7 linked regions of the Homo sapiens genome follow. The protein of the gene in region 1 purifies or fractionates together with the protein of each later gene. This does not show direct contact. Each region holds a gene or a part of one and is shown in the gene's direction. Other genes may lie near its edges.

Region 1 (4,276 bases):
GATGATAGTTCCTGCTATCCTGTTTTTATGATTCAGTAATATTAACCCAAGTGTTTCTCTCTGGGGCTGTAGTCTCAGGTGTCATACGATCTTATTGGGAGTGAGGGGTGTGTAGCCAGGGAGAAGGAGAAAGGCACCAGATGACAAATTGGCTTGTGTTTAGGTGCCATCTTGTACAAATATAGACACAGACCTTCAATCTCTAGAGTTGCAGTGTCCATTATGATAGCCATTAGCCACATGTGGCTACTGAGCATTTGAAGTGTGGCTAGTCTGAATTCAGATGAGCTGTGTCTTTAAAACCACACCGGATTTTAAAATTTTAATACAAAATAGAGAACGCAAAATATGTCATAAATAATTTTTATATTGAATACATATTGAAATGCAATATTTAAGATATATTGGCTAAGTAAAATAGACTAAAGTTAATTTTACCTGTTTCTTCTTCTTCTTCTTCTTCTTTTTTTCTTGAGACAGAGTCTCGCTCTGTCGTCCAGGCTGGAGCGCAGTGGTGCGATCACAGCTCACTGCAGCTTCATAGGCTCAAGGGATCCTCTCAATTCAGCCTCCCAAAGTGCTGGGATTACAGGCATGAGCCACCGCACCTTGCCTCTCTTTTACGTTTTAAATGTGGTTCCTAGACAACCTGAAATGACATGTGAAGCACACATTATACCTCTACCTGGAGTAATCTTCAGTCGAGGGGAGGCTCCTGTGGTGAGCAGCACCTGCCGGGGAAGCAGAGTGAGGGCCCCTCAGCTCACTCAGGGCATCTGCTTGGGAAAGAGAAAATGTAACTGCCCCTCTGTGTAGATTCATGCCCCTTTTAAATCCATTTCTCTCATTATTTTGGGGTTAGTTAAGTAGGATATGCTGTTTAACTGCACTAGATATAGATCTCTGATTTAAATGAGTTTGTTTATCCTGGTACCCTCAGGATAGTTTTAAAATGGTAATTACTATCATCATCATTACAGTGGCTAATGATTCTACAGCACAGCCAGTCCCACACACTTTACATAACACATGAGCCAGTCACTATTATTACCTCCATTTGAACAGATGGCAACTTGAAATTCCAGTCAGTGTCTCAAGGTCACACAGGTAGAGGTTGACCCAGGCCATGGGGTTCAGAATCTGCCCTGAACCACAAAGCAGTACTGCCCTCTAAAATAAGATCTATTTCTTGACTTTCTTAGCACATGACTATGCCGGCCTTTCCATAGTGTAATAACAGTATTAGTCTTTTCTCCAAAACTTAGATGTTTTCCAGTAGTTTAACAGCTAAGGCATTCAGAGATGTTTACTGTCTCAAAAACTGGGGTCTACTGTAAGGTTCTGGATGATCCAACTCCTTGTTTTCCCCTAAAGTTGCCCCAAAAAGCATACATGCATTCAGTCTGCTTAAAAATATGGTGTAATTCCAATTAAGTACAAAACATTAGTTCCCTGCCACATGCCAAGTACTGGGCAACCAGAGGTAAAGATGACAGACCCCCAGCTCACAAAGAATTCTGCTCTGGTGGAGCTGAAGGCAGATTCTAGTAACACAATGTGTTGAGGATTGTGTGTCCGTAGCGCTCTGGGAACAGAGGAGAGGGACACCCTGCACATTGTGGGGTGCCGGGTAAAGGTGTCCCATTAAAGACATCTTCTGGGTGGAGGGGGTGCTTGAGCCATCTTTAAATATCTCATGCCAGTTTTCTCACAGCATGGGAAGGCCACTGGTAAGGGTGCCTGCCAGCTTCGCCATAAACACTGCATCTGCAGTTGTTCAGAGCATGCTGACCCCATTCCTGTGGTTTCAGGTGCCAGCAAGGTCAACCTCGTGAAGATCGCGTCCACGGCCTCCAGCCCACGGGACACGGCGCTGGCTGCCGTTATCTGCAGCGCTCTGGCCACCGTCCTGCTGGCCCTGCTCATCCTCTGTGTCATCTATTGTAAGAGACAGTTTATGGAGAAGAAACCCAGCTGTAAGTTTTGAGCTCATTACATTTCTTAGCATTTAGGGGAAGGGCATTTATTACTATTGTCGTGCAAGTGTTCCACAAGAGACTTGGCTGAGACAAGCACCAGTGAGTTGTGAAAGAACGCAGGGCACAAGAAACACAGGTGATCCCTGAACAGCAGAGGGCTAGGAGAGCAGTTAAGAATCCACACGTCAGTGTTGACTCCCCAAAAACTTAACTACTAATAGCCTATTGTTGACGGGAAGCCTTACTGATAAACAGTTGGTTAATACATCTTGTTTATTATATGTTTCTTTGTTTTTTTGTTTTTTTGGAGACAGAGTCTGGCTCTGTCACCCAGGCTGGAGGGCAGTGGCGTGACTTCAGCTCATGGCAACCTCTGCCTCCCGGATTCAAGTGATTCTCCTGCCTCAGCCTCCGGAGTAGCTGGGACTACAGGCGCCCGCCACCACGCCTGGATAATTTTTGTATTTTTAGTAGAAACGGGGTTTCACCATGTTGGCCAGGCTGGTCTCGAACTCCTGACCTCGTGATCCGCCTGCCTCGGCCTCCCAAAGTGCTGAGATGACAGATGTGAGCCACTGCACCGGCCTATTATATGTATTATGCCCTGTATTCTTACATTAAAGTAAGCTAGAGAAAAGAAAATGTTACTAAGAGAATCATAAGGGAGACAAAATAGATTTACTCTTCATTAAGTGGAAGCGGATCATTGTAAAGGCCTTCATCCTCATCATCTTCATGTTGAGTGGGCTGAGGAGGAGGAGGAGGAGGGTTGGCCTTGGTGTCTCAGCGTGGCAGAGGCTGAAGAAAATCTGTGTATAAGTGACCTGCGCAGTTCAAACCCGTGTTGCTTAAGGGTCATCTGTAGAATTCACTGAGGTTGCACAGCTTTGTAAGGAGACTTACAAGGCTGTGATGTCCCTGCGCCACTAGGCAAAAATAAAAATCATTCTCAGTAATGGCAACATTAGTACCCTACATTTTGAACTTTCTTAACAAATTATTTCATGTTTGTGCTTCCATGTAAGAAGAAGTCATCAAACATTGGAAGGATAGCTGATTTGTTCTTTAAAAATACAAAAGCTAGAATGGCACAGGTCCACTAGAGAGGAGACTGTGTTCCCTGACAGAGTTCTCACCCCTCATTTAGGGTCTCTGCGGTCACAGGACATTCAGTACAACGGCTCTGAGCTGTCGTGTTTTGACAGACCTCAGCTCCACGAATATGCCCACAGAGCCTGCTGCCAGTGCCGCCGTGACTCAGTGCAGACCTGCGGTAAGTTCAGCAGGGAAGTGCCGTTAGGAGGACTGGAGGTACACAGAAGCTGAAGCAGCAAGAATTGGTCCTGGTTTATTCACCTCACAGCGAGGTGGCTGTGTTGAGTCTTCTGGTTAAAACTAATCTTGTTAAATTATTCTCCACCATCTCCTGTTGGTTTGGGTGTTTCGAGTCTCTTAAGCATTAAAAAGGAAATAAGCATCTCGTTAAAATTCTAGAATTTTTCAGCAACTTTTGGGTCATGTTTGTCTTTCTTGTTTTGAGTCAGTTTATTTAAAATCACGGTAACCTTTGGTAGAGTAGGACTTTATATCCTTTGCTGTCTGGTTGATTCAAACCAAACACTAATATGCCTATTTTAAAAATATGTCTATTATAAAAATATATCTATTTTTAGAATTTCTTAAAGAAGAGAGAGCTGAGAAGTCCATTTCAAGGTTTTACACAAACCATAATTGCCCCTTGGACTATTGACAGATTGAAAGTTTAGGAAAGTAATTCAAAGGGAAACTGGTCTCTAACTTGGGCAAATAGGGGCAAAGGTAATACCAACTTTTTAAAAACTTTTATTTTAGGTTTGGGGGTACATGTGCAGGTTTGTTATATAGGTAAACTGATGTTACACGTTTATTTTACAGATTATTTAATTATTTAAGCCTAGTACCCAATAGTTTCTTTTTCTGCTCCTCTCCCTCCTCCCACACTCCACCCTCAAGTAGACCCCATTGTGTGTTGTTCCCTTCTTTGTGTTCATGTGTTCTCATCATTTAGCTCTTGCTTATAAGTGAGAACATGTGGTATTTGGTTTTCTGTTCCCGCCTTAGTTTACTGAGGTAATGGCCTCCAGCTCCATCCATGTTCCCACAAAAGACACGATCTCATCCCTTTTTATGGCTGCATAGTATTCCATGGTGTATATATGCCACATTTTCTTTATCCAGTCTGTAATTGATAGGCATTTAGGTTGATTCCATGTCTTTGCTATTGTGAATAGTGCAGCAGTGAACATTCATGTGCATGT
Region 2 (4,880 bases), on another chromosome or scaffold:
ATTTATAATGTTTATACTGATGATTGATAATTGTCCATGATCATCTCTATATCTAATTTGTATTGTAACTACTCTTTATTCTAACTATTTTCTTTATTATACTGCAACAGTTTGTGCCTTCAGTCTCTTGCCTTGGCACCTGGGTAATCCTTTGCCCACAACTCCTGACCTCAGGTGATCCTCCCGACTCGGCCCCGCAAAGTGCTGGGATTATAGGCGTGAGCTACCGCATCTGGCTTTTTTTTTTTTTTTTTTTTTTTGAGACAGAGTCTTGCTCTGTCGCCCAGGCTGGAGTGCAATGGCATGATCTGGGCTCACTGCAACCTCTGCCTCCTGGGTTCAAGCGATTCTCCTGCCTCAGCCTCTCAAGTAGCTGGGACTACAGGCACCTGCCAACATGCCCGGCTTTTTTTTTTTTTTTTTTGAGATGGAGTCTCACTCTGTCACCCAGGCTGGAGTGCAGTGGCGTGATCTCTGCTTGGCGTGATCTCTGCTTGGCGTGATCTCGGCTCACTGCTACCTCCGCCTCCTGGGTTCAAGTGATTCTCCTGCCTCAGCCTCCTGAGTAGCTGGGATTACAGGCTCACGCCACCACGCCCGGCTAATGCCCGGCTAATTTTTGTATTTTTGTAGAGACGAGGTTTCACCATGTTGGCCAGGCTGGTCTTGAACTCCCAACCTCAGGTGATCCTCCCGCCTCGGCCTCCCAAAGTGCTGGGATTACAGGCGTGAGTCACCGCGCCCGGCTTCGTTCTTTCTTGTCTCCATGTCTTTGTATGCTGTTCTCTTTGTCTAGACAGCCTTTTAACCTCTATTCCTGAACTCCACCCACCCTTCCAAACTCAGTAAAGTCTCTATCCTCTTTGAAGCCTTCCCTGACCAGCTACACTTCCTTTCTTTGTATCATTGTCTTTGCTTCATACACAGTTCTAGGATAGCTCATACTTTGCATACTGCAAACTTGATCTCCATTGGCCAGCCAGTGCCATTAGACTCCCAACTACTTCGGGGCAGTCACTGTCCTATACCCTGCTTCAATAAAAGGAAAATCAGCCCCTAGAACAGGACCTAGTACAACTAAGTGCACAATAAATACTTGTTAAATGAATGAATGAATTTCAAGACGCTTGAGACCACTGGTAAGAATTTTGGGTTTCCAAAACCCTCCCCTTCCCAACCCCCATTCGGTAAGAATGCTTTCGCATTAGCATCAGGTCCGAGGTTACTCATTAGAAACTGGGCAAAGCCGGAAGGCGGCCACTTTGCAGCAAAGAAGCCCTAGACCTTGGGAGTCAATCAGGCCAGCCCAGGCCGCACCACGGTCTCCTAGTTGACAGTTCGAGGGGCCTCGCGGGCCGCTTGCTTCGTCAGCTTACAGGGATCCCGCACGCCAGGTGAGCCCACACACTGAGCGGACATTGGGGCAGGCAGGCAGGCGCCGGGGGGCGGGGCCAGCGTCGCCCCGCCCCGTCCTGCCTCGCCCTGTTCGCGCGTCCGCTGTCCGGCCTCCGGTCACGTGACAGCAGCGCAGGTGAGCGCCGCTTCCGGGGTCGGGCGCCTGGATAGCTGCCGGCTCCGGCTTCCACTTGGTCGGTTGCGCGGGAGACTATGGCGTCCTCCTCGGTCCCACCAGCCACGGTATCGGCGGCGACAGCAGGCCCCGGCCCAGGTTTCGGCTTCGCCTCCAAGACCAAGAAGAAGCATTTCGTGCAGCAGAAGGTGAAGGTGTTCCGGGCGGCCGACCCGCTGGTGGGTGTGTTCCTGTGGGGCGTAGCCCACTCGGTGAGAACCAGCCCTAGACCCCCGCAGCCCTGTCCAAACCCCTCGGCTCCGAGGCGTCCCTGTTTCCAGGCTCCAGCCTCCGGAGCCCCACGCAGTGCCACTCCCCTCCCCCGGGTTGTCTTGGTCCCTGCCCACCAACCCCAGGTGTTCCCCCAGCAGGTTTTCTGACTGTGGACTTTTTTCTCCCCAACAGTTCTTTACTGCTCCACTCTAGTTCCACCTTCCCCCCGTGAAATCCAGCTCCCTGTGCTTTGACTCCTTCCTGCCATGTCTAGCTTCAGCCTCAGGCTACGCGGACTGGCCAGGACCGGGCGCAAGCGGGGAGGACATTAGGGGGAGTGGCTTTTTCTCGGGTGGTTGTTGGTGAGAGTGTAGGTGGAGGGTGAGGGGCCGAGGGGAGTAGATGGATGAAAAGGTTCTTTCACTTTGCTTTCCACCTTGCTTCCCAGCCCCGGTCCTTGGCTTTTGAATCTTGGTTTTGTCTCGGGGAAGCTCCAGGTTTCCTGGGCTTTCTAATCCTGCTTGTCCCTTCCTTTCCCTTCCAGAGGTACAGCATTTTAGAGAAGCTACCCCACCCTGAGCTAGAAGTTGCACACTCTCAGGACTTATGTATATATGCCTTTGGTCTTAACTGCATCCTTATCGCTGGCTAGAGCGATCGTGTTTGGTGTAGGTGGTGGCGATTGTTGACCAAAGAGAAGGCTGAGGGGCTCTGTTCCTGAGGTCACTATGGTGGTGAACTTTTGAAGCAGGAAACTGCTCTGGGAGTCAGGAGGAGGCCAAGGAGACCTCCATCCCCTTTCCTGAGGATACCTCAGCTGAAAGAAGCACAGCCATTGCCCATCTTCCGTCAGGTCTGGAGTGGGAGAAATGCAGTTATCTTGAATGTGACACGGAATATTTTCGAAATCAGCGTTCTTGAATATAGTCATGGCTAGGCTGTGGAGATGGAAGTTGTGAGGAAGAATACGCGTTTTGTCACATTTTTAATTTGTGGTAAAGAATTTCTTAACCAAAAATTAAGAATGTTGTTTGTGGCCAGTCGGATCTCTTTTGGATTTGTGGCTCTCTGGGTGGTAAGCTCTTAGTGAGTATTCAGTGGAAGGCACTTGGTATGGGGAAGGCTGATGGAGGTAGGGCTGCCTCTCATATGTACCTTCCAGGTGATTCATCCATTCCCTGTGGGATGCTTAACAGGGAGGGTTTTCCCTTGTTAAGGATTGGGGGAGTTACATGTAAGACCTACCTCAGCTTCACTAGGTATATATACTTTAGCCCCAGCACCCCACCCTCTGCCAACACACATCTACTTCAAGTGTTTGGAATGGAGAAATTCCTTGAACATATGTCTTAGTGATGATTCAGCTTGCTTAGCAGGTGGGGAGGAGGGGGCAGGAGGAGCTATAGCTGAATTTTAGGCTGGGAGTCTCAAGTGGCTTTTTTTTTTTTTTTAATCTGGAGGGATATGTTCTGTCCTCCTTTTCTACTGAGAACGGGAGGAGTTGGTTGCACTGCAGTGTGTGTGATTTAGGTTAGACTGCAGTTCATAGCCTCTGTGGAATGATCTAGTAAGGATAGGCAAGGCATTCATTTATTCAATTAATAGACATGTCAGGATCACTGTGTGCCAAACATTGTGCTAGTTAGACACCTGAAAGATGCAGACGACTAGAATGAGCCCTTGTTCTTGAAGAGCTCACAATCTAGATGGGAGAACTTACATAAACTAGTGATTAGAGTCATGCAGTAACAAAGGCAGGTGAAAGGTACTGTAGCAACACCAAGGAGAAAGCACGGCTCAGGATTTTTAAGTACTAGAGCTCCCTTTCTACCCTGAATTAGCAGACTGCAGATCCTGGGGGCCGAGGAGAGCATGTGATGCTTGTGTCCTTTGGGCTGTGGATTAGTTTGGCTTTAGGGAACAGACGCCTAATGAGCTCATATCCTCTGATTGCCTGCATTCGCTCTGAAATCAGCTGCTCTTCCTTTACCTTACACCTTAGACAGGTGGGGGCCTACTGCAAACAACTGGGTCAGAGTGGTCTAGGAAGACTGGTCCTGTTTGCAAAGAGATGCCTTTTGCAGGATATGGACATTTATCCTTTTTGCTGTGGTTGGCCCCACAGAATCCCATTAACACTCTTGTGCATTTTTAAAATGCCTTTTTTTTTCTTTTTCTAATGGAACATGTAGCTGCCTTGAGCTTGCAGAGTTTTTTTTTTTTTTTTTTTTTTTTTTTTTTTTCTAGAATTTCTCACAGCTTTAAAAATAGTCCTGAGTTGCTTACAGGGTTAGCCTAATATAAAATGACTGTTGTGAGCATGAAGTTCCATGGGGGTGGGCGTGTTGGGGGCTGTGTGTGAGGGTTGCTTACTGTAGTCCTTCTTGGGCAGCAGAAGGGTTAGACACATTCTCTCACTTCTGTCAAGCATATGCATAGCCAGTGTTTTTAAAGGAATGAGGTCTGAGTGGCCCTTGCATGACTGCTGCCCAGACACAGTGTATGGGTAGCTCTCCACACCCTTCTTCATGGCTTCCCTATTCATGGTTTGGCTTATCAGATCAATGAGCTCAGCCAGGTGCCTCCCCCGGTGATGCTGCTGCCAGATGACTTTAAGGCCAGCTCCAAGATCAAGGTCAACAATCACCTTTTCCACAGGTAAGTGATGATCCTTGCCATTCTCATGTCAACCTTCCCAGAAAGGAGTAATAAATAATTTTAAAAGTTTCAGTGAGTTGAAAATTTAACATCCTTCCCAAATGCAGAAATTAGTTTTGTGCAAGGAAACCATGAGAATAATTTCTGGTGTTCCCTATATCCTTATATGAATCAGTGTTATCTCTCCTCTAGCCTGGCAATTCCATAGAGTAAATATGTACAGATACCATTACCTGCTCTTTCTCTCTTTTTCTGCTTGTGACCTTGGAGATGCCATGAGAACCATTAGCTTCTGACAGGGACTCCTTGAAAGAAAAACTTGAATTCTCTACTAAGCCCTCCTAGGAAAAGAAGATGCCATTCAAAACAGTGGTGTCTGTTGCTGACTTTAGAATGCTTCTGACTTGCTTGAGATTTGGGAAATGCTGCTGTTTGGATG
Region 3 (3,087 bases), on another chromosome or scaffold:
AGTGGCGTGATCATAGCTCACTGTAGCCTCCAACCCCTGGGCTCAAGTGATCCTCCCCACTCAGCCTACCCAAGCAGCTGGAACTACAGGTGTGCACTGTGACACCCTAATTACCTTATTTTTGTAGCAGTGAGGTCTTGCTGGGGTCTCAAACTCCTGGTCTCAAGCAATTCTTCCACCTTGGCTTCTAATTTAAGAAAAGGCAGGCCAGGCATGGTGGCTCATGCCTGTAATCCCAGCACTTTGGGAGGCCAAGGCAGGCGGATCACTTGATGCCAGGAGCTCGAGACCAGCCTGGCCAACATGGTGAAACCCTGTCTCTACTAAAATTACAAAATTTAGCCAGGCCTGGTTCCGTGCACCTGTAATCCCAGCTACTGAAGAGGCTGAGTCAGGAGAATTACTTGACTCCAGGAGGCAGAGGTTGCAGTGAGCCAAGATCATGCCACTGCACTCCAGCTTGGGTGACAGAGCTAGACTCTGTCTCAAAAAAAAAAAAAAAAGGCAGAATCAGATGTTTTTCTTTTTTTGCATGACCTCCCAATCTTTACATATTGGCAGCTAAGGAAAATATCTCACAAAGCACCGTGTGGGCTGGCATTTGGCACGGTGCCTTCCAGACCATGGGCCACCAGCCCATGAGCCCTGCAGAGTCTTCTCAACCACCTCAGGGTTGCCAGGGCTCCGGGGAGCCTCTCCCACACCAGCTATGGTGGCTTTGCTCTGTTTTCTGGCATTCTAATAGCTTGAAGCCCTTCTGTTTCACTAAAACAGTGACAACCAGGGTCCATGCCTGAAAAGCGGGGGGTGCTGTCCCCAAAGCAGCTTACACATTCTCCGGGAACACAAGAGACTCAGGCAGTGTTCTTTGGGCTGATGTGTAGTGGCTCACTGAACTTGGTGTCACAGAAACATGGAAATAATAGAAGCGTTTGACCTTGGGCAGTCACTCCATGCCTCCCTGTCTGTGCAAGGGGATGACTGTGCAGCAGCACCCATTCAGGTGTGGTTGGAAGGAGGTGTGCTGCCCTTGGCCTCTGCCCTTCTGCCTGTCCATCTGCTCCAGGCCTCAGTTTCCCCCTCTGTAAAACAAGGGGGCCAGAACTAGGCCATCTCGAAGCTCTAAAAGTCTATGGTTCAGTCTTTTAAAAAGTAGGGTAGGGTATGGTGGTGCACACCTGTATTTCCAGCTGCTTGGGAGGCTGAGGCGGGAGGATCATTTGAGCCCAGGAGTGGGAGGCTGCAGTGAGCCGTACCTCGCCACTGCTCTCCAGCCTGTGCCACACAGTGAATCTCTGTCTCCTAAAAAAAAAAAAAAAAAAAAGGAAATGTGGGGTATACTTAATTCCTTAATTACCTGAATACCTCAGTCCCTGAAAATGTCAGAGTTTATAATCATGGCCTTAGGCAGGTGAGGTATTCAGCACAATACAGCTCTAAGCCTCGGTGTCTCGGGTGTGAAACAGGGACACAATTCCTGCCAAGCTCAAAAGGGGTCACTCGGGGGGCCCTTTAGTGAAGGACAAAAGGTTATGCTCACAAACAAGGGGTGAGGGTTGTTCCTGCCTGGGCCTGTTAGAGAGCTGTTATGCGCAAACCTCCAGACACTAGGGAAAGATTTCATTGTCATTTTTGCCTCTGGGGCCACATTCAAAATTCCCAGCATTTCTGGGCCTGTGACGGGGGTTTCAGTACCAGCTGGGTGAGGCTGGCAGCCCTGCCCCTTCCAGCCTGGATGCTGTGGGCTGTGTGACCTTGTGGGGTGGGCGGGGCAGGGGGTGGGGTGCAGCCCTCAGCACCCCTTCTGCTCTCTTCTCCAGGAGTGGTATGAGGAGCATGCCAGGGAGCAAGAGCAGCAGCGACAACTCAGCAGCAGTGCAGCCCCCGCCGCCCAGCAGCCCCCAGGCAGCCGCCAGCGCTCCCAGACCGTTACCTAGCCCAGCGCCCGAAAGCCGTCTCTTCTATGCAATAACACAATAGTATTACTCTACTGCGATGTACGGAACTGCGGTGTGTGTACACATACTCACGTATATGCACATATTTATATACAGGAAGAAAAAAGACAGACAAGATGGGGCTTGGTTTATAACCACCTTGCCCTGTCTTCCTTAACTCCAGAAGCCAGTTTGGTGAGGGGTGGGGGTGCGGCCACCAGGTCTGAGCTCTTCCTACTGTGGAAGGCTCCAGAAGGCCCTTCACAAGGAGACCCCTCACCTGGATCCAGTCGACTGCGGGGCTTGCCCCTCATGTGGGCTGGCCTCCATCGGCCACGTCCAAAGCTGTCACTGCTACTGCTTCAGGCTCACATCCCCCCGACCTGATGGCGTGCCCGCCCCCTCTCCCTGCGGCCCATGCCACAGGTTTCTGTGTTTTGCTTTAGGGACAGAACCACTTAGGAAGGAAAGAACTCCCGGTCTCCAGGGTGGTATTTCAGTGTCTGTGATAATGTCACGCAACACCTCTTCGGGGACCAGTGCCCAGGATCTAATGGAAGCGGAATTGGGGCAACTGGGCCCATGTGGCCAGAGCTCAGTTAGCCAGTGCCGGGCGGCCACAGATTACACTGACCAATCTCCTCCCTTGGCTCTGCAAGCCTCCCACCCAGCCTTCTCTGGCTTAACCCTTGTTGGCGAAAACTCTTCCACAGTGGCCTCCTTGGGGACCCAGAACCCGGAGGAAGGGGCATGAGGCAGGAAGTGGGGCCGATGTCTGCAACCCAGACCACTTCGTGGAATGGGCTCTTGACCAAATCCCTTTTTTTGCGATTTACCCGTTCAAGCAAAACAACGTTTTGGTTAACTAAGGATTGTGCTAAAGCCGATACCAGGTCCTTCACACGTGTGCACTAGGAACAGGAGCGAACAGCACAGAGAGACGCTCCCTGTGGGACGCAGCAGCCCCGTGGCCCCGGCCCAGTTCCCAGCCACCCTCCCTGGCTCTGCTCACACCAGAGATTTCCATAGCAGGAGCGGTTGGTGCAGAAGTAGGTTCAGATGAACCTCAGTTAACGTCGCCACCCCTCCTCCCACCATGGTACCCTGTAGGAGCCCTGTATGACATCTGAGCGTGGTGGAGGTAGGAGGG
Region 4 (3,083 bases), on another chromosome or scaffold:
GAGGTAGTCTGACCTTGGCTAAATTACTGAGAGCATTATATGTTGACATAATTTTTAATAAACCAATAAAATATATTGATATATTTTAAAGGTAATATCTTAATGGCTTGATTATAAAGCTTATTTTCAATATTTTTATTCCCTCAGAATACAAAAGAAAAACATTTATAATTTCAAAGTATCAGGCTTTTATTATATAAATTTTTTTTTATAAGATTAATTTGAAAAAGATAACTTTCTGGGCCAGGCACGGTGGCTCACGCCTGCAATCCCAGAACTTTGGGAGGCTGAGGCAGGTGGTAACTTGAGGTTAGGGGTTCAAGGCCAGCTTGGCCAACATGGTGAAACGCTGTCTCTACCAAAATTACAAAAATTAGCTAGGCATGATGGCATGCACCTGTAATTCCAGCTACTCCAGAGGCTGAGGCAGGAGAATCGCTTGAACCCGGGAGGTGGACATTGCAGCGAGCCAAGATTGTGCCACTGCACTCCAGCCTGGGTGACAGAGTGAGACTCTATCTCAAAAAAAAAAAAAAAGAAAAAAGAAAAAGATAGTTTTCTGATAACATAAGCAGTTTAAATGGAAATCAACCTTTCCCCAACTTAATTATATGAGATTCATGATGATTAATAATTATTGAATGTTGGAAATATGAAGGGTAGCATGTCCTTTACGTGTGTGTGTATATGTACACACACACACACACAAATAAAGCAAGTCTAACTACTATTAGTCCCATTAAAATACAAATAAATTTAGGTTCAAAGTATCCGTGTCTTAGATGGACTGTTCCTAAATAAAGTAATGTAGGAGATTAGTGCCAATTATAGTCCTTCGAGAGCGTAGTGTTTCTTCTTAAAATAGTATTTTCATCATTTTTCTGAGTTCGTTACCTTTAGCCAGTTGCGGAAAGGGAGCTAATCAATGTGATTGGGTATACTTACTATGAAGATTTTTCATTACTTAATATTAAGATCAACATCAGGATATCTTTAGGAGGCGAGGGCACTTTCAGCTAATTTTTTAATTGTTTCAACAATAAAAGTGAATGGAGTATTTTCCCACACTAAGGATTTGTTTTCTTGACAATTAAAAATCAAGTCCTGAACTTCCATACATCCTGACTAGTCTTTGGCTTGGCAGCACTTGGGTCAAATGCCCTCCATAATACCACAGAATGTCATTAGCTAGAGAAGACAAACATGAGGCCAGTTCTACAGAAGTGCCTTGGTATTTTTCATTTGTTGTATTAGTGATCCTAATAAAACTTTTACTGGCATGTTAAAGGCAGAAGCCAGGTTGAAGAGCAAATGGGAAATGAGAAGTGGAGTTGGCAAATCTAGAATACCCTTTCAAAGTTTCAAAGTTTCGCTTTGAAGGAAAGAGGTGACAAGAAAATCAACAACAAGGGTACCGGTGGTTGAAACTGAACCTTTTATAAGCAGGGAAATAATATAACTTGATACTTCTTTTGCAAATGATCTATTTAAACTTTCTGTATATTTTAGGTGAAAGTGTAAGAGTAGAATCAAGCAGTCAAATCAAGGTGTCATTACAGTAATTTGGGTAAAAACAAATGACTTAGGTTAAAGTGGAAGTAAGAGATATGATAAGAAGTGGTTAGACTTAGAATTCAGGAAGGGAGATGCAAAGCCAATAGGATTGTGGGGGAGAAGGGTGAGTGGAACATAAATGATAGTTGTTTTCTGAAGAAAATGATCCAGTTTATAATTCCTGCCATTTAACTGGCTCATTTTCCTCAGAAAACAAATTCCAATATTATAGTTACAGGAAGTAAAGGGAAGACTGACAGAGCCAAGTCCCTGAGAAGACACTTGTAAAGAAACAGAAAATTCCTAGCTATCAATGACTCCATGGTTGTGTGGCCAGTAAATCAGGGAAGTTCATTTCTAATTGCCTGAAATATCTTGGTGAAGCAGGAGAAAAGCCAGTTTGGTGGGGGTAAATGATAGCTCAGGATGAGGTGGAGAATGTTGATAAAACTGGCATCAACTTGGAAAATTACAGGCCTCTGGGGAAGTGGGAAGAGATAATCTAAGATAAGACACTCAAAAAAGGATTTCAGGCAGCACTGAAGGACGCTAACTTTCTGATGGTACAGTGCTTGTGACATCCTCTACCATTGTTAAGAACCTGGAATTAGGAATCCAGGACAGAGATGCTTTGCCGTAATACTAAAGTTTAGATTTAACAAGGGTAATACCAGACAAATAGGTGAAGGGACTGAGAACCACAAGAAGTGAATGTAGTTTTGTGTCCTGTGTAAACCATCTGCTCCAAGCAACCTGGACTTCTTGTCATCAGTAGAGTGGAACTTCATTCTTACCCCAGAGCATTTGTGTATTTTCATTCTGTTTGGCATGTTCTCTCCTTATTTTATATTCTTTAAGCCTCTTTTCAAATGACTTCTTCTCACTAGAACAATCCTTCATCATTTTCCTATCCAGAACTGATCGCTTTAACTCCTTAATGTATTTGTTCCTTGCACTACTTTTCAGCTATTTTTTTTTTATTTTTTAAAATAGAGACAGAATTTTGCTACATTGTCCAAGTTGGCCTTGAACTGCTGGCCTCAAGCAATCCACCTGCCTCAGCCTCCCAAAGTGCTGGGATTACAGGCATGAGCCACCATGCCCAGCCTCAGCTATTTTTATTTCTAAAAATTGTGCTCTATGTAAACCATACTTGAGCCAATCATCACTCTAAGCATTTTACAGGTAATATTTCACAACAAAAATCTGACAATAACAACAGGAGGTGGGTCCTTTTATTAACGTCATTTTTCTGATGAGAAAAAAGAGACTCAAACAGGATTCCACACTCACCCAACCTCTACGTGCCAGAAGCAGAACTCAAACCCTCACATGAAATCCCAGAGACTCATTCCACTCATTTCATTTCCCTTTAGATCATATTTATCCTGCCTTGTATTGTAACTCCTTGGCCTGTAGATTCATAGAAGATCTGTTTGTAACCCTGGATCCCCACCACAGCTCCTACATTAGCTCATTGCACAAAGTAGGTGCTCATGACGTCTCTCACAATTTATTAGTGTTCAAAG
Region 5 (3,883 bases), on another chromosome or scaffold:
TCTCATCCCTTTCCCTTGGGGACGTGGTTTTGAGGAATTATGTAGTAGGGCGAAGAAACCACAACGAGTTGGACTGAAACTTTTTAAATTTTTGGTCTTCCTGGTTGGTGCCGTCCTGCTTGGCAGCTGTTCTGCTGTTTCACACCAAGAAAAGTTGTTTCTGAACTTAGTTTACTTTTTTCCCAAGTTAAAAGTAGCTTATATATTCTGCATTTTGTTAAGGAGCTTGCACTTTATCCAAAGGGCAGGACGAAGCTGATCTGAGACAGGTGTATTAGTTATTTCTTGCTTCCTGACAAGTCACCCCACACTCAGGGGTGTAAACAGTAACATCTGTCAGCTCAGAAAGCCTCTGTGGGTCCGGAGTCTGTGAGTGGCTTGGGCACGCGGACCTGGCCCAGGGTCTCCTGTGAGGTCACAGTGCAGTGTTGGCCAGGCTGTCATCTGAAGGTTGGTGGCTTCAAGATGGCTCCCTGGCAGGGGGTTGGCAGGAGGCCTTGGTTCCTCACCTGGGGGCCTCTCTGTGGGGCAGCTTCAGTGTCGCCCAGCATGACTGTGGCTTCCTCCCAGCAGGGATGGGATTGCACAGCTGGTCGACGGTGGTTGGGAGAGGGAGAAATAGAGGCCCTTGCTCAGGTTTCTGAGTTCAAAACTGTGCTCTCATTTCAGGGGCCAGCAGCCTCCCCCGATGGGTCGTCAGCAACGAGGGTGCCTCAGGATGTGACGCAGGGCCCTGGGGCCACAGGTGGAAAGGAGGACAGTGGGATGATTCCCTTAGGTGAGCTGCTGGCCTCTCTGGTTCTCCCCGCCAGCCCCCAGCACCGGGGAGGGGGTTCAGTGAACGATCCTGGCACCAGGACCCAGGACAAGGACAGACTTGGACCCCAGCCCTTGAGGAGCCCCGGGGTTCGGACCCAAGGGGCGGGCATTGGGGGTATGGGTGGGCCTCGGGGTTGGAGGTTCATCCATCCATCTATCCATCCATGCACCCATCTAGCCATCATCCACCCTCCACCTATCCATTCCTCTATCATATACCCACCCATTCACCCATCCATCCCTCTATCATTCTCCCAGGCATCCATCCATCCTTCACATGTTCCCCCTCACACCAATCCCACCATCCCTCTGTCATCCATCATCATCACCCATCTATCCATGACCCACCCATCCATCCATCTACTCATCCACCCATGCACCCACCCATCCATCATCTGTACATTCATCCACCCATCATCCGTCCATCCATCCACCCATCATCCACCCATGCATTCATCATCTACCCATCCATCACCCATCCGTCCATCTAGTCATCCACCCACCCATCCATCATCTGTACATTCATCCACCCATCATCCACCCATGCATTCATCATCTACCCATCCATCACCCATCCGTCCATCTAGTTATCCACCCACCCATCCATCATCTAGACATTCATCCACCCCTCATCCACCCACGCATTCTTCATCTACCCATCCATCATCTGTACATTCATCCATCCATCATCGGTCCATTCATCACCCATCATCCACCCACGCATTCTTCATCTACCCACGCATTCATCTACCCATCCATCATCCAGCCAGCCATCATCTATTATGTATTGGGCATTGACTGTATGCCAGGCACTACTAGGTACCGGGACACAGGTATGAATAAGAAGCCCACAGCCCAGCCCTCTTCCCACCCCAATGGTTTCTGCCTTTAAGCGTTCCCTCCCTGCCTCCACCCCAGCCTGTGCTGTCCTTGCCCCGCCCTCGTGCCGACCCAGATGCTGACTCTCTTTCTTTTCCCAGCAGGCACCGCCCCTGGGGCTGAGGGGCCGGCGCCTGGGGACTCCCAGGCTGTGCGCCCCTACAAGCAGGAGCCCAGCAGCCCCCCGCTGGCGCCTGGCCTGCCCGCCTTCCTAGCGGCCCCGGGCACCACGTCCTGCCCCGAGTGCGGCAAAACGTCCCTGAAACCAGCTCACCTGCTGCGCCACCGGCAGAGCCACTCGGGCGAGAAGCCGCACGCCTGCCCTGAGTGCGGGAAGGCCTTTCGGCGCAAGGAGCACCTGCGGCGCCACCGCGACACGCACCCCGGCAGCCCCGGCAGCCCCGGGCCCGCGCTGCGCCCTCTGCCCGCCCGTGAGAAGCCCCACGCGTGCTGCGAGTGTGGCAAGACCTTCTACTGGCGCGAGCACCTGGTGCGCCACCGCAAGACGCACTCGGGAGCGCGGCCCTTTGCCTGCTGGGAGTGTGGCAAGGGCTTCGGGCGCCGCGAGCACGTGCTGCGCCACCAGCGCATCCACGGCCGGGCAGCGGCCAGCGCGCAGGGGGCGGTAGCTCCGGGCCCGGATGGTGGAGGCCCCTTCCCGCCCTGGCCCTTGGGTTAGCCGCCTCCCGGCCAGCGCCATCTCCCGCCCTTGGTGCTGCCCCCGGGCGGTACCTGCTCTCTCCCAGCGCCACTTGGCCTCTTCCTCTCCTCCTTCCCTCCCATCGTCCTCCTCCACCTGCGCCTCCCTTGTCTGAACTTCCCAACGCCTTCCTATTCCTTTCCAACTCCTTTTCCCCCAAATTTCACTTTCCTTCTCAGGTCTCACCTCAGCCCCCCCCTTCTCCCTGATTTCTCGGCCTCTCTCTCTGTGTGAAGGGGCCTCTCCCTAATGTCTCCTCCTTCCCCCCTCTTCTCTCTCCTGCGGCCCAGCCTCCCTCTCCCTCCTCCATTCCTCTCTCCCTGCCCTTTTCCTGCCTGAAGAGCAGAGGTGAGGACCTGGGACCCCTGAGGGGCAGGCCAGGAGGAGCTCGGGCGCAGGCCAGGCCCCCTTGGTGAAGCAGAGGCTGAAGGAAAGGGGTCTGGGTCTTGTCCCTAGGAATTCTCCTCCCTCAGGAGATTGGGGGTTGGGGGAGGCAGCGGGTGATGGCTCTGAAGCTGAACCCAGGGCCTGGCTGTGGTCTTCTTGGTCTTGCTGCCCCCTGTGACCCAAAGGCATGGGATGGACAGAGATGCCTGCCCCCGTGAAGCTGGTTGGGGAGGGCAGTTCACCAGCATCCATAGAGTAATAAAGTCACTGTGTGTAGACCCGGAGTCTGAGCTCTGTCTGGAGTCTGTCCGGCACAGCCACCCTCCCAGGGCCGAGCGTCTGGGGTGCCCGGGGCTTCTGGGGTCAGCTGTCTTGGCTCCCACCACAGACTCTCTTGGCATGAGAGAGGCTCTGGGAGTCTGGGCACAGCTGTGGGAGGCAGTGCAGGAAATGTGTCCTCAGGAGGGCTGTCCCCACCTCCATCCTACGGAGGCAGGGATGAGGCTCCTGGAAGGGACCTGCCGAGTGCCACACTGAGTCAGGTTCGCATCTGAGCCCTTCAGCTTCCTGGCTGGGAACCTACAGGTTGGTCATACCCTCTGGGCATGAGTTCCACATCCGCAAGTGATGATAATGGCACCCACCTCCCTTGCTAAGGCCACTCTGTTTGACTGGGGTCCTGAGTGTCAGTGTTGGTAGGTCTTGGGTGGCCCATTCTGCCACGCAAGGAATTCTCTCACCTTTAGCTGGAGCCATTGGCCGAGGGGGGGACTCCGTATGGAGGGCAGGCTTTGGCCAGCTGCATCTTTCCAGGATGCCACCTCTTGTCAGCTCAGCGAGCAACCCCGGTTCCTTCTCTCCAGAGAGGAAATCTGTAGCCTCTGCCGGGTGGATGAAGGGCAGTTGCCGGGCTTTGGAAAGCGTAGGATGAGAGCGCTGGTCTGACCACTCCCCTGCCGCCCAGTCTTGGGGCTGGCTTCACCCTGGTCCTTTTGGTTCCTGTGTGCCCAGCGCCTGAGCCTGGGAGGGGTTCTATGTCAAACCCTCCATGGTTGCCGCCTTGTGGCTGAGCCCGCCACGGTACCACCTTGCGTCCAA
Region 6 (5,063 bases), on another chromosome or scaffold:
AGCGAAACTCCGTCTTGAAAGAAAGAAAAGAAAAGAAAAGAACACCTAGGTCGGGTGCGGTGGCTCACGCCTGTAATCCCAGCACTTTGGGAGGCTGAGGCGGGCGATCACCTGAGGTCAGGAGTTCGAGACCAGCCTGGCCAACATGGTGAAACCCCCTCTCTACTAAAAATACAAAAATTAGCTGGGCGTGGTCGCCGGCGCCTGTAATCCCAGCTACTCGGGAGGCTGAGGCAGGAGAATCACTTGAACCCGGGAGGCGGAGGTTGCAGTGAGTAGAGATCGTGCCACTGCACTCCAGCCCGGGTGACAGAGCAAGACTCCATCTAAAAAAAAAAAAAAAAAAAAGAAAAGAACACCTGAGCTAAATTTAAGAAGAAACCACCTACGTCAGGACCTAGAGGAAGAGCAGTGTCAAGCAAAGGAACAGCAAGTACAAAGTCTTGTGGCCAGAATAATGCTGTACTGGCGAGCTAGAAGAATAGGACAGAATAACCCGATTATAAAAGGGGCAGTGGGAGAGAAAGGCGAGTACTAGGAGATGAAGTTGAAGAATTAAGCAGAGACCAGATCAAGTACTGCCTTGCTCTGGCCATGAAAAAAGTATGGATTTTAGTCTAAGTGTGCTCAAGCATCAGTTTTGTTTGTTTGTTATTTTTAATAAGCAGGGGAATGGCACAATCTAATGTCTGCTCTTAGAAGACGGATAGCTGTTACGTGGGAATTATTTGTAAAGAATGTGGGAAAAGCAGAGGCAAGAAAGGCAGGCCGAAGGTTATTGCAACAGCCCTGGCAAGAAAGGGTAGCTTGAATTACAACGGCAGTGGAAATGGAGAGAAGTGAATGGGTTTAGGATATATTTTGGCCCTGAAATGGCAGGGCTTGCTGCTGGAATAGACGTGGGGATGTAGGAAAGAGGAGTCACAGGTAATCCCTCGAGTTCCTTGTACTGTAACTGGAGTATATCTCCCTCCTGAGGGTAGCTAAGGAACGGGTTGGGACAGAGGGTTGGTTTTTTGCACCAAAAGATCTATTTTGGACATGGACATGTTATGCAAAGATGCTATTATCTCTTCTAGGGGCGATGCCCGTGAGCAACTGGATAATCAAATCTGGAGCATTTCAGTCTCAAACACCTCCTCAGAGTGATCCCAGGAGATCTCTGCAGCCACGGTGACATTTTCTTTATCTGAAGCGATGACACAGCTCACTGAATGCCATTCTTCCACATGCTGGAAAAGCGAGGTCTAGTGAACACAATTCCTTTCCGTGCGGAAAGTCTGAAATCTTTTTAACACTTCGGACACAGAGCATCGTAAGGTCCCAGAATAGAGGGTGTGAGCAATTTCAGCGCTCACCTCGGCCCAAGCGAAGCTCCAGCGGGAGCAATTGAGACCCAGGGACGAAGCTAGGGAGGGCCTGGCAGCCCCCGGCACTGGCCGGCAGGGGTAACCCAGGAAAAACAGTCTCCTGGCCTCTCGTTACCCGCTTCAGGCCCTCCGCCCTCCCCTGGCCTCTCGGGACGGCCGCGCTTACCTGAACCGAACTGTACGCACAAGCGCGCTCCTGACTCCAGGTGCACACCGTGGAGGCCTGAAACGAGAGCCATGACCGCGACGCGCTGAACAAACCAAGCCGCCAGTTTTCCGTCCCGTCCCGGCCCCGGCCCTGGCGAGGTGCGCATGCGCAGGGCCGGGAGCTAGGACCCCGCGGCAGGCGGGCGCGTCCGCGTCGCACGGAAGTCTCGCGATGTTTGCGTTTGAACCTCTTGGCGGGTGCCGGCCATGGCGGCTTCGCTCCCGGGACCTGGGAGCCGGCTTTTCCGCACATATGGGGCTGCGGACGGCAGGAGACAGCGGCGGCCGGGCCGGGAAGCCGCGCAGTGGTTCCCGCCGCAGGACCGGAGGCGTTTCTTCAACAGCAGCGGCAGCAGCGACGCCAGCATCGGCGACCCCTCGCAGTCCGACGATCCTGACGATCCCGACGACCCCGACTTCCCCGGCAGCCCGGTGAGGCGGCGGCGGAGGCGTCCCGGCGGCCGAGTGCCCAAGGACCGGCCCAGCCTGACCGTGACCCCAAAGCGCTGGAAGCTGCGAGCTCGCCCAAGCCTAACCGTGACCCCAAGACGCCTGGGGCTGCGAGCTCGGCCCCCGCAGAAGTGCAGCACACCCTGCGGCCCGCTCCGACTTCCGCCCTTCCCCAGCCGCGACTCCGGCCGCCTCAGCCCGGACCTCAGCGTGTGCGGCCAGCCCAGGGACGGCGACGAGCTGGGCATCAGTGCCTCCCTGTTCAGCTCTCTGGCCTCGCCCTGCCCCGGGTCCCCAACGCCAAGGGACAGTGTCATCTCGATCGGCACCTCCGCCTGTCTGGTTGCAGCCTCAGCCGTCCCGAGCGGCCTCCACCTCCCAGAAGTCTCCCTGGACCGAGCATCTCTCCCCTGCTCCCAGGAGGAAGCGACAGGAGGAGCCAAGGACACCAGGATGGTCCACCAAACCCGCGCCAGCCTCAGGTCAGTTCTCTTTGGCCTTATGAACTCAGGAACCCCTGAGGATTCTGAGTTTCGGGCAGATGGGAAGAATATGAGAGAGTCCTGCTGTAAAAGGAAACTGGTGGTGGGAAATGGACCAGAGGGTCCAGGTCTGTCAAGCACAGGCAAGAGGAGGGCCACAGGCCAGGACTCTTGTCAAGAGAGAGGGCTTCAAGAGGCCGTCCGGAGAGAGCATCAGGAGGCCAGTGTTCCCAAGGGCCGCATTGTGCCAAGGGGAATAGACAGGCTGGAGAGAACTAGATCAAGCCGGAAGAGCAAACATCAGGAGGCAACGGAAACCTCTCTCCTCCATTCCCACCGCTTTAAAAAGGGCCAAAAGCTGGGAAAAGATTCGTTCCCCACCCAGGACCTGACTCCTTTACAGAATGTCTGCTTTTGGACCAAAACCAGGGCTTCCTTCAGTTTCCACAAGAAGAAAATTGTGACTGATGTGTCAGAGGTCTGCAGCATCTATACCACTGCCACTTCTCTCTCTGGATCCCTCCTATCAGAATGTTCAAACCGGCCTGTCATGAACAGAACAAGTGGTGCTCCGTCCTCTTGGCACTCCTCCTCTATGTATTTGCTAAGCCCCTTAAACACTCTAAGTATTTCAAACAAAAAGGCATCTGATGCTGAAAAGGTTTATGGGGAATGCAGTCAGAAGGGTCCTGTCCCCTTTAGCCATTGCCTTCCCACAGAAAAACTGCAACGCTGTGAGAAGATTGGGGAAGGGGTGTTTGGCGAAGTGTTTCAAACAATTGCTGATCACACACCCGTAGCCATAAAAATCATTGCTATTGAAGGACCAGATTTAGTCAATGGATCCCATCAGAAAACCTTTGAGGAAATCCTGCCAGAGATCATCATCTCCAAAGAGTTGAGCCTCTTATCCGGTGAAGTGTGCAACCGCACAGAAGGCTTTATCGGGCTGAACTCAGTGCACTGTGTCCAGGGATCTTACCCTCCCTTGCTCCTCAAAGCCTGGGATCACTATAATTCAACCAAAGGCTCTGCAAATGACCGGCCTGATTTTTTTAAAGACGACCAGCTCTTCATTGTGCTGGAATTTGAGTTTGGAGGGATTGACTTAGAGCAAATGCGAACCAAGTTGTCTTCCTTGGCTACTGCAAAGAGCATTCTACACCAGCTCACAGCCTCCCTCGCAGTGGCAGAGGCATCACTGCGCTTTGAGCACCGAGACTTACACTGGGGGAACGTGCTCTTAAAGAAAACCAGCCTCAAAAAACTCCACTACACCCTCAATGGGAAGAGCAGCACTATCCCCAGCTGTGGGTTGCAAGTGAGCATCATTGACTACACCCTGTCGCGCTTGGAACGGGATGGGATTGTGGTTTTCTGTGACGTTTCCATGGATGAGGACCTGTTTACCGGTGACGGTGACTACCAGTTTGACATCTACAGGCTCATGAAGAAGGAGAATAACAACCGCTGGGGTGAATATCACCCTTATAGTAATGTGCTCTGGTTACATTACCTGACAGACAAGATGCTGAAACAAATGACCTTCAAGACTAAATGTAACACTCCTGCCATGAAGCAAATTAAGAGAAAAATCCAGGAGTTCCACAGGACAATGCTGAACTTCAGCTCTGCCACTGACTTGCTCTGCCAGCACAGTCTGTTTAAGTAAGCTAAATGTATCTTACTGCCCCGAAATGAGAGGAGACTGGTCTTGAAGCCTCTGGTGCTGTTTCAACCTCCATCCCCACAGGAGGGTGGAACTCCCATTCTCACAGGTTTCCAGTCAGCTTTTCAAACAAGAATTTTGTTTCCAAATGGAAACTGAAATATTTGTTGAAATGTTTAAATTTGCTGATAACAAATGTTCTGAAAGAAGTAAACTAGCCGGGCACAGTGGCGTGCGCCTGTAGTCCCAGCTACTCGGGAGGCTGAGGCAGGAGGATCGCTTGAGCCCAAGAGTTCATATCTAGCCTGGTCAACATAGCAAGACCCCTGTCTCTATTTTTTTAAATAAATAAACTACATGTGAAAACAAACGTTTATATTTATAAACCCTCTTTTTTTTTTTTTTAATTTTATTGAGACAGAGTCTTGCTCTGTCACCCAGGCTAGAGTGCAGTGGTGCGATCTCAGCTCACTGCAACCTCCGCCTCCCGGGTTCAAGCAATTCTCCTACCTCAGCCTCCCGAGTAGCTGGGATTGCAGGCATACACCACCATGCCCGGCTAATTGTTTGTATTTTTTTAGTAGAGATGGGGGTTTCACCATGTTGGCCAGGCTGGTCTCGAACTCCTCACCTTGTGATCCACCCACCTCGGCATCCCAAAGTGCTGGGTGATTACAGGAGTGAGCCATGGCACCTGACCTATAAGCCCTCTTTCTAATTGTCAGCAGAGTCCTTTCTGTAAATTCCTTTCCGTTTTTTGAGCCTTAACACTTATGTAGTCTGAGCAAAAAAAAAATGCCCAGGCTTCAGCTTCATACTGAGCAGAGCCTGTTGCTTCAGGTATCAAGGCTAGCTTTGGGAACCAGACTACAGATGAGACAACTG
Region 7 (4,276 bases), on another chromosome or scaffold:
TCCTGACCTTGTGATCCACCCTCCTCTGCCTCCCAAAGTGCTGAGGTTACAGGCATGAGCCACCGCGCCCAGCCAATTTATTATTTTTCTTAATTTATTTTATTTTTTTGAGATGGAGTTTCACTCTTGTTGCCCAGGCTGGAGTGTAATGGCATGATCTCGGCTCACTGCAACCTCCGCCTCCCGGGTTCATGGGATTCTCCTGCCTCTGCCTCCCAAGTAGCTGGGATTACCGGCGTCCACCACCATGCCCAGGTAATTTTTTGTATTTTTAGTAGAGACGGAGTTTCACCATGTTGGCTAGCCTGTCTCGAACTCCTGACTTAAGGGGATCCACCCACCTTGGCCTCCCAAAGTGCTGGGATTACAGGCATGAGCCACCGTGCCTGGCTATTTTTTTTTTATTACTATGCCAATCTCCTGCTACTACAGCTCTGTTCAGATTTTTTGTTTTTTCATGACTCAGTCTTGGTATATTGTGTATGTGTAGACATTTGTCCACGTAATCAGTTATATAATTTACTGAAGTATTCTAAAGGACTTCTGAAATTAAGCCTGAGTTGTACAGTTTTTTGTCCTCTGCTGTATGTATGTATTCTGCTGCTGTTGCTGTGAGTGTAAGGGGTGAGGTGAGGGGAATCATTCTATTGACCTATGACTTAGCCTCATTTAAAGATAATAGGCCGGGCACAGTGGCTTATGCGTGTAGTCCCAGCACTTTCAGAGGCGAAGGTGGGCAGATCGCTTTAGCCCAGGAGTTTGAGAGGAGCCTGGGCAACACAGGGAGAGCCTATCTCTACAAAAAATACAAAAATTAGCTGGGTGTGGTGGTGCCCACCTGTAGTAGGGAACAAGGTGGGATGATCACTTGAGCCTGGGAGGTTAAGACTGCAGGGGCCATGATTGTACCACTGCACTCTAGTCTGGACAACAGAGTGAGATCCTATCTCAAAAAATATTATATCAATCTTTATTTATTTATTTATTTGGAGACAAAGTGTCACTCTGTCACCCAGGCTGGAGTGCAGTAACACAATCCTAGCTCACTGCAACCTTGAATTCCTGGGCTCAAGCAATCCTCCTGCCTTAACTTCCCAAGTAGCTAGGACCACAGACACCTGCTAACATACCCTGCTAATGTTTTTAAAAAATTTTTCTAGAGGTGGCTATAACTTTTAATTTTTTTGTTTTTTGAGGTGGAGTCTTGCTCTGTTGCCCAGGCCCACCATGCCAGGCTAATTTTTCTATTTTTAATAGAGACCAGTTTTCACTATGTAGGCCAGGCTGGTCTTTAACTCCTGACCTCAAGTGGTCCACCCTACTACTCTACATGCCTGCTCTGTTATTAACCAAGTTTTCATATGAATACTGGCCCATTGAAGACTCTTCTTTTTCCTTGATCTATTTGTTTATCTCTCTGCTAATAGTATGCTGTCCTGAATGTGATGGTTTGGAAATCTTTGGTGTTAGGTAAGCCATCCACCTGCTATTCAGAAGGCTTTGACAATTATTAGATGTTAATTCCTGCACACCAGGTGGTGGGAGGTTTGGAAAAGTAGCTTTTGTTTACCTAAAATGTCTGTTTTGGGGATTTTTTTTTTTTTTTGAGACGGCGTCTCGCTCTGTTGCCCAGGCTGGAGTGCAGTGGCATGATCTCAGCTGACTGTAATCTCCGCTTCCTGGGTTCAAGTGATTCTTCTGTCTCAGCCTCCCAAATAGCTGGGACTACAGGCATGCGCCATCACGCCTGGCTAATTTTTTGTATTTTTAGTAGAGATGGGGTTTCACCATGTTGGCCAGGCTGGTCTCAAACTCCTGTCCTCAAGTGATCCACCTGCCTCGGCCTCCCAAAGTGCTGGGATTACAGGTGTGAGTCACCACACCCAGCTGTATTGGGTATTTATGAAATTTTGTAAGGATATCATTTGGAAGAAGGGACATCTTATTGAGTTTTTTCTAGGAACACATGTTATCTTTCCACTTACTCCATACTGCTTTGACATTACCTGACAGAAATTTTAAAATTCTTCCATTAGGACAATTAAATATTGATCATGAATCTTATTTACTACTTGATTAAATTTGGTCTAGAGTAAACTGCTTGCAAGCTTCAGGATATTCTCTCTTGGTATAACCACATGGGATGAGCTCAGTTCCCCAGGGGACAAGTTGTGACAACACGTGTGACATATTGTCTCCCAGGAAAGCTCATTAAAGACTCTGTGCCCAGAGTGTTTTTCTGGGGCTAGTGCCCTAGGCACCACTTCTAGTTTGGAACAAAAGAGTAGGCTTTCAGAAGGAAAACAGTTCAGTCAGTACCATCCTGTTTGTCAATACCATAAACCGTTTAGCCACAGTAAGCCACTTTGTCACTTAAGTTGATGGGATCCCTCTCGTAGTCTAAGTTGACCCCGATAGTAGCAAAGGTCGAACTTGGTAAACAGGCCTTTCTAAGGATACCCAGACTCAGGACTGCTGAAATGAGCGCTGTCTGCACACCAGGTGGTGGGAGTTTGTTGTGACAGGTACTAGAGATTCACTCTGCAAAGAGCATTTGGGGCAACGCAGCAGCACAACTGACTCCCTGGACCCACCACAGAGAGGGTGGTCCTCCTCTGTGGCTGGCTCTCTGAGTAGGTCAGTTCTCACACTGGAACTGCTGCGAGGGAGGAAGTGCGTGTAGATAGGAGGAGGCCGATGACTCAATCATGGAGTGAGTGTTTGGAGAGCCCGGCGTCATGGGATCACTCATGTATTGAGTAGAGATCCCCAGTGCTGAGTCTCACCCCTCCTCCTCCACACCTGTGGGATGTTTCAGGACTCAGTGGCCTTTGAGGATGTGGCTGTGAACTTCACCCAGGAGGAGTGGGCTTTGCTGAGTCCTTCCCAGAAGAATCTCTACAGAGATGTGACGCTGGAAACCTTCAGGAACCTGGCCTCGGTCGGTAAGAAGGACATTTCCTTCCTTAGTCAATTAGAAGACAAGTGTGTTTTGGTCACCAGTGTGGTTGCACAGTTTGGAATGTGGAAAGAGAATACGTTGGTGAATAAATGGGGCATCGTGGGCCAGGTACAGTGGCTTACCCTTGTAATCCTAGTGCTTTGGGAAGCCACGGTGGGAAGATTGCTTGCGTCCAGGAGTTTGAGACCAGCCTGGGCAACATGATGAGACCCTGTCTCTTTAAAAAAAAAAAAAAAAAGTGGGGGGTGGGCAATTGTGGCAGCTCATGCCTATAATCCCAGCACTTTGGGATAATGTTGAGATAATGTTGAGAAATGCAGAAGTATTGCTGGGTGTGATGGCTCCTGCCTGTAATCCCAGCACTTTGGGAGGCTGAGGCAGGTGGATCACCTGAGGTCAAGAGTTTGAGACCAGCCTGGTCAACATGGCGAAACCTCATCTCTACTAAAAATACAAAATTAGCTGGGTGTGGTAGTGCATACCTGTAATCCCAGCTACTCGGGAGGCTGAGGCAGGAGAATCACTAGAACTCAGGAGGCGGAGGCTGCAGTGAGCAGAGATTGCATCACTGCACTCCAGCCTGGGTGGCAGAGTGAGACTTTGTCTCCAAAAAAAAAAAAAAATCAGGCATTGTGGCAGTGTTTAATGAACTTAGAACCTAGTGATTTTTCTGTAATTTTAAATAATTCATAATAATTTCTCTGGGTCTACATTTTAGGAATCCAATGGAAAGACCAGGACATTGAGAATCTGTACCAAAACCTGGGGATTAAGCTAAGGTAATCTCCACTCACAAGAGGAAGCAGTGTCTCTTGAGGGAATCTTAGTAGGTCAGGAAAATTTTTAAAAAAATACAAGACAAATAAGTACAATGTTAGGTTTTTAACTGATTATTAGAAGATTGCTACCAAAAATCTATCCTTCAATGTAATGTAGATGTTGAGTGTCTGGACAGGGTACTAAGAATCTGTGACATGGATGTCACTGTTTGGATAACTGCTATGGGGAGCTGGGTAGCAGAATCATCAATACACTTCCTTTCTAATAATTCTGACCCAGGAGAAAACCTCCACTTTTCCTGATTTTGGTAGCAGCATAAGTCTTAAGACATGTCAATTAGTAGAAAAGCATTAATAAACCAAGCATTGATAATGCGTTTGTCATTTTTCATAGAAGTCTGGTGGAGAGACTCTGTGGACGTAAAGAAGGGAATGAACACAGAGAAACTTTCAGCCAGATTCCTGATTGTCACCTGAACAAGAAAAGTCAAACTGGAGTGAAACCATGCAAATGCAGCGTGTGTGGGAAAGTCTT

Evidence for each region.
Region 2: the proteins of TNFRSF19 (region 1) and PIP4K2C purify together in Homo sapiens (affinity purification with mass spectrometry; 2 studies listed by BioGRID and IntAct, with this or other methods). This does not show direct contact.
Region 3: the proteins of TNFRSF19 (region 1) and TPCN1 purify together in Homo sapiens (affinity purification with mass spectrometry; 2 studies listed by BioGRID and IntAct, with this or other methods). This does not show direct contact.
Region 4: the proteins of TNFRSF19 (region 1) and SMR3B purify together in Homo sapiens (affinity purification with mass spectrometry; 2 studies listed by BioGRID and IntAct, with this or other methods). This does not show direct contact.
Region 5: the proteins of TNFRSF19 (region 1) and ZNF444 purify together in Homo sapiens (affinity purification with mass spectrometry; 2 studies listed by BioGRID and IntAct, with this or other methods). This does not show direct contact.
Region 6: the proteins of TNFRSF19 (region 1) and HASPIN purify together in Homo sapiens (affinity purification with mass spectrometry; 2 studies listed by BioGRID and IntAct, with this or other methods). This does not show direct contact.
Region 7: the proteins of TNFRSF19 (region 1) and ZNF101 purify together in Homo sapiens (affinity purification with mass spectrometry; 2 studies listed by BioGRID and IntAct, with this or other methods). This does not show direct contact.

The regions. Positions count from the first base shown.
Region 1 is NC_000013.11:23,657,239-23,661,514, forward strand, and holds part of TNFRSF19 (tumor necrosis factor receptor superfamily member 19 isoform 2 precursor), read left to right. Parts: intron 1-1,811; coding exon 1,812-1,976; intron 1,977-3,126; coding exon 3,127-3,252; intron 3,253-4,276. UniProt on the Homo sapiens protein: Can mediate activation of JNK and NF-kappa-B. May promote caspase-independent cell death.
Region 2 is NC_000012.12:57,589,682-57,594,561, forward strand, and holds the start of PIP4K2C (phosphatidylinositol 5-phosphate 4-kinase type-2 gamma), read left to right. Parts: upstream 1-1,510; 5' UTR 1,511-1,608; coding exon 1,609-1,782; intron 1,783-2,538; exon of another isoform or gene 2,539-2,636; intron 2,637-4,343; coding exon 4,344-4,441; intron 4,442-4,880. UniProt on the Homo sapiens protein: Phosphatidylinositol 5-phosphate 4-kinase with low enzymatic activity. May be a GTP sensor, has higher GTP-dependent kinase activity than ATP-dependent kinase activity. PIP4Ks negatively regulate insulin signaling through a catalytic-independent mechanism.
Region 3 is NC_000012.12:113,294,140-113,297,226, forward strand, and holds part of TPCN1 (two pore channel protein 1), read left to right. Parts: intron 1-1,820; coding exon 1,821-1,937; 3' UTR 1,938-3,087. UniProt on the Homo sapiens protein: Intracellular channel initially characterized as a non-selective Ca(2+)-permeable channel activated by NAADP (nicotinic acid adenine dinucleotide phosphate), it is also a voltage-gated highly-selective Na(+) channel activated directly by PI(3,5)P2 (phosphatidylinositol 3,5-bisphosphate) that senses pH changes and confers electrical excitability to organelles.
Region 4 is NC_000004.12:70,385,751-70,388,833, forward strand, and holds part of SMR3B (submaxillary gland androgen-regulated protein 3B precursor), read left to right. Parts: intron 1-3,083.
Region 5 is NC_000019.10:56,157,825-56,161,707, forward strand, and holds the end of ZNF444 (zinc finger protein 444), read left to right. Parts: intron 1-669; coding exon 670-778; intron 779-1,799; coding exon 1,800-2,377; 3' UTR 2,378-3,069; downstream 3,070-3,883. UniProt on the Homo sapiens protein: Transcriptional regulator. Binds to the 5'-flanking critical region of the SCARF1 promoter.
Region 6 is NC_000017.11:3,722,152-3,727,214, forward strand, and holds HASPIN (serine/threonine-protein kinase haspin), read left to right. Parts: upstream 1-1,751; 5' UTR 1,752-1,784; coding exon 1,785-4,181; 3' UTR 4,182-4,548; downstream 4,549-5,063. Other genes in the region: ITGAE (integrin alpha-E isoform 1 precursor), read right to left, coding at 1,137-1,232, 1,537-1,593. UniProt on the Homo sapiens protein: Serine/threonine-protein kinase that phosphorylates histone H3 at 'Thr-3' (H3T3ph) during mitosis.
Region 7 is NC_000019.10:19,675,046-19,679,321, forward strand, and holds part of ZNF101 (zinc finger protein 101), read left to right. Parts: intron 1-137; exon of another isoform or gene 138-153; coding exon of another isoform or gene 154-255; intron 256-358; exon of another isoform or gene 359-1,470; intron 1,471-2,818; coding exon 2,819-2,945; intron 2,946-3,680; coding exon 3,681-3,741; intron 3,742-4,135; coding exon 4,136-4,276. UniProt on the Homo sapiens protein: May be involved in transcriptional regulation.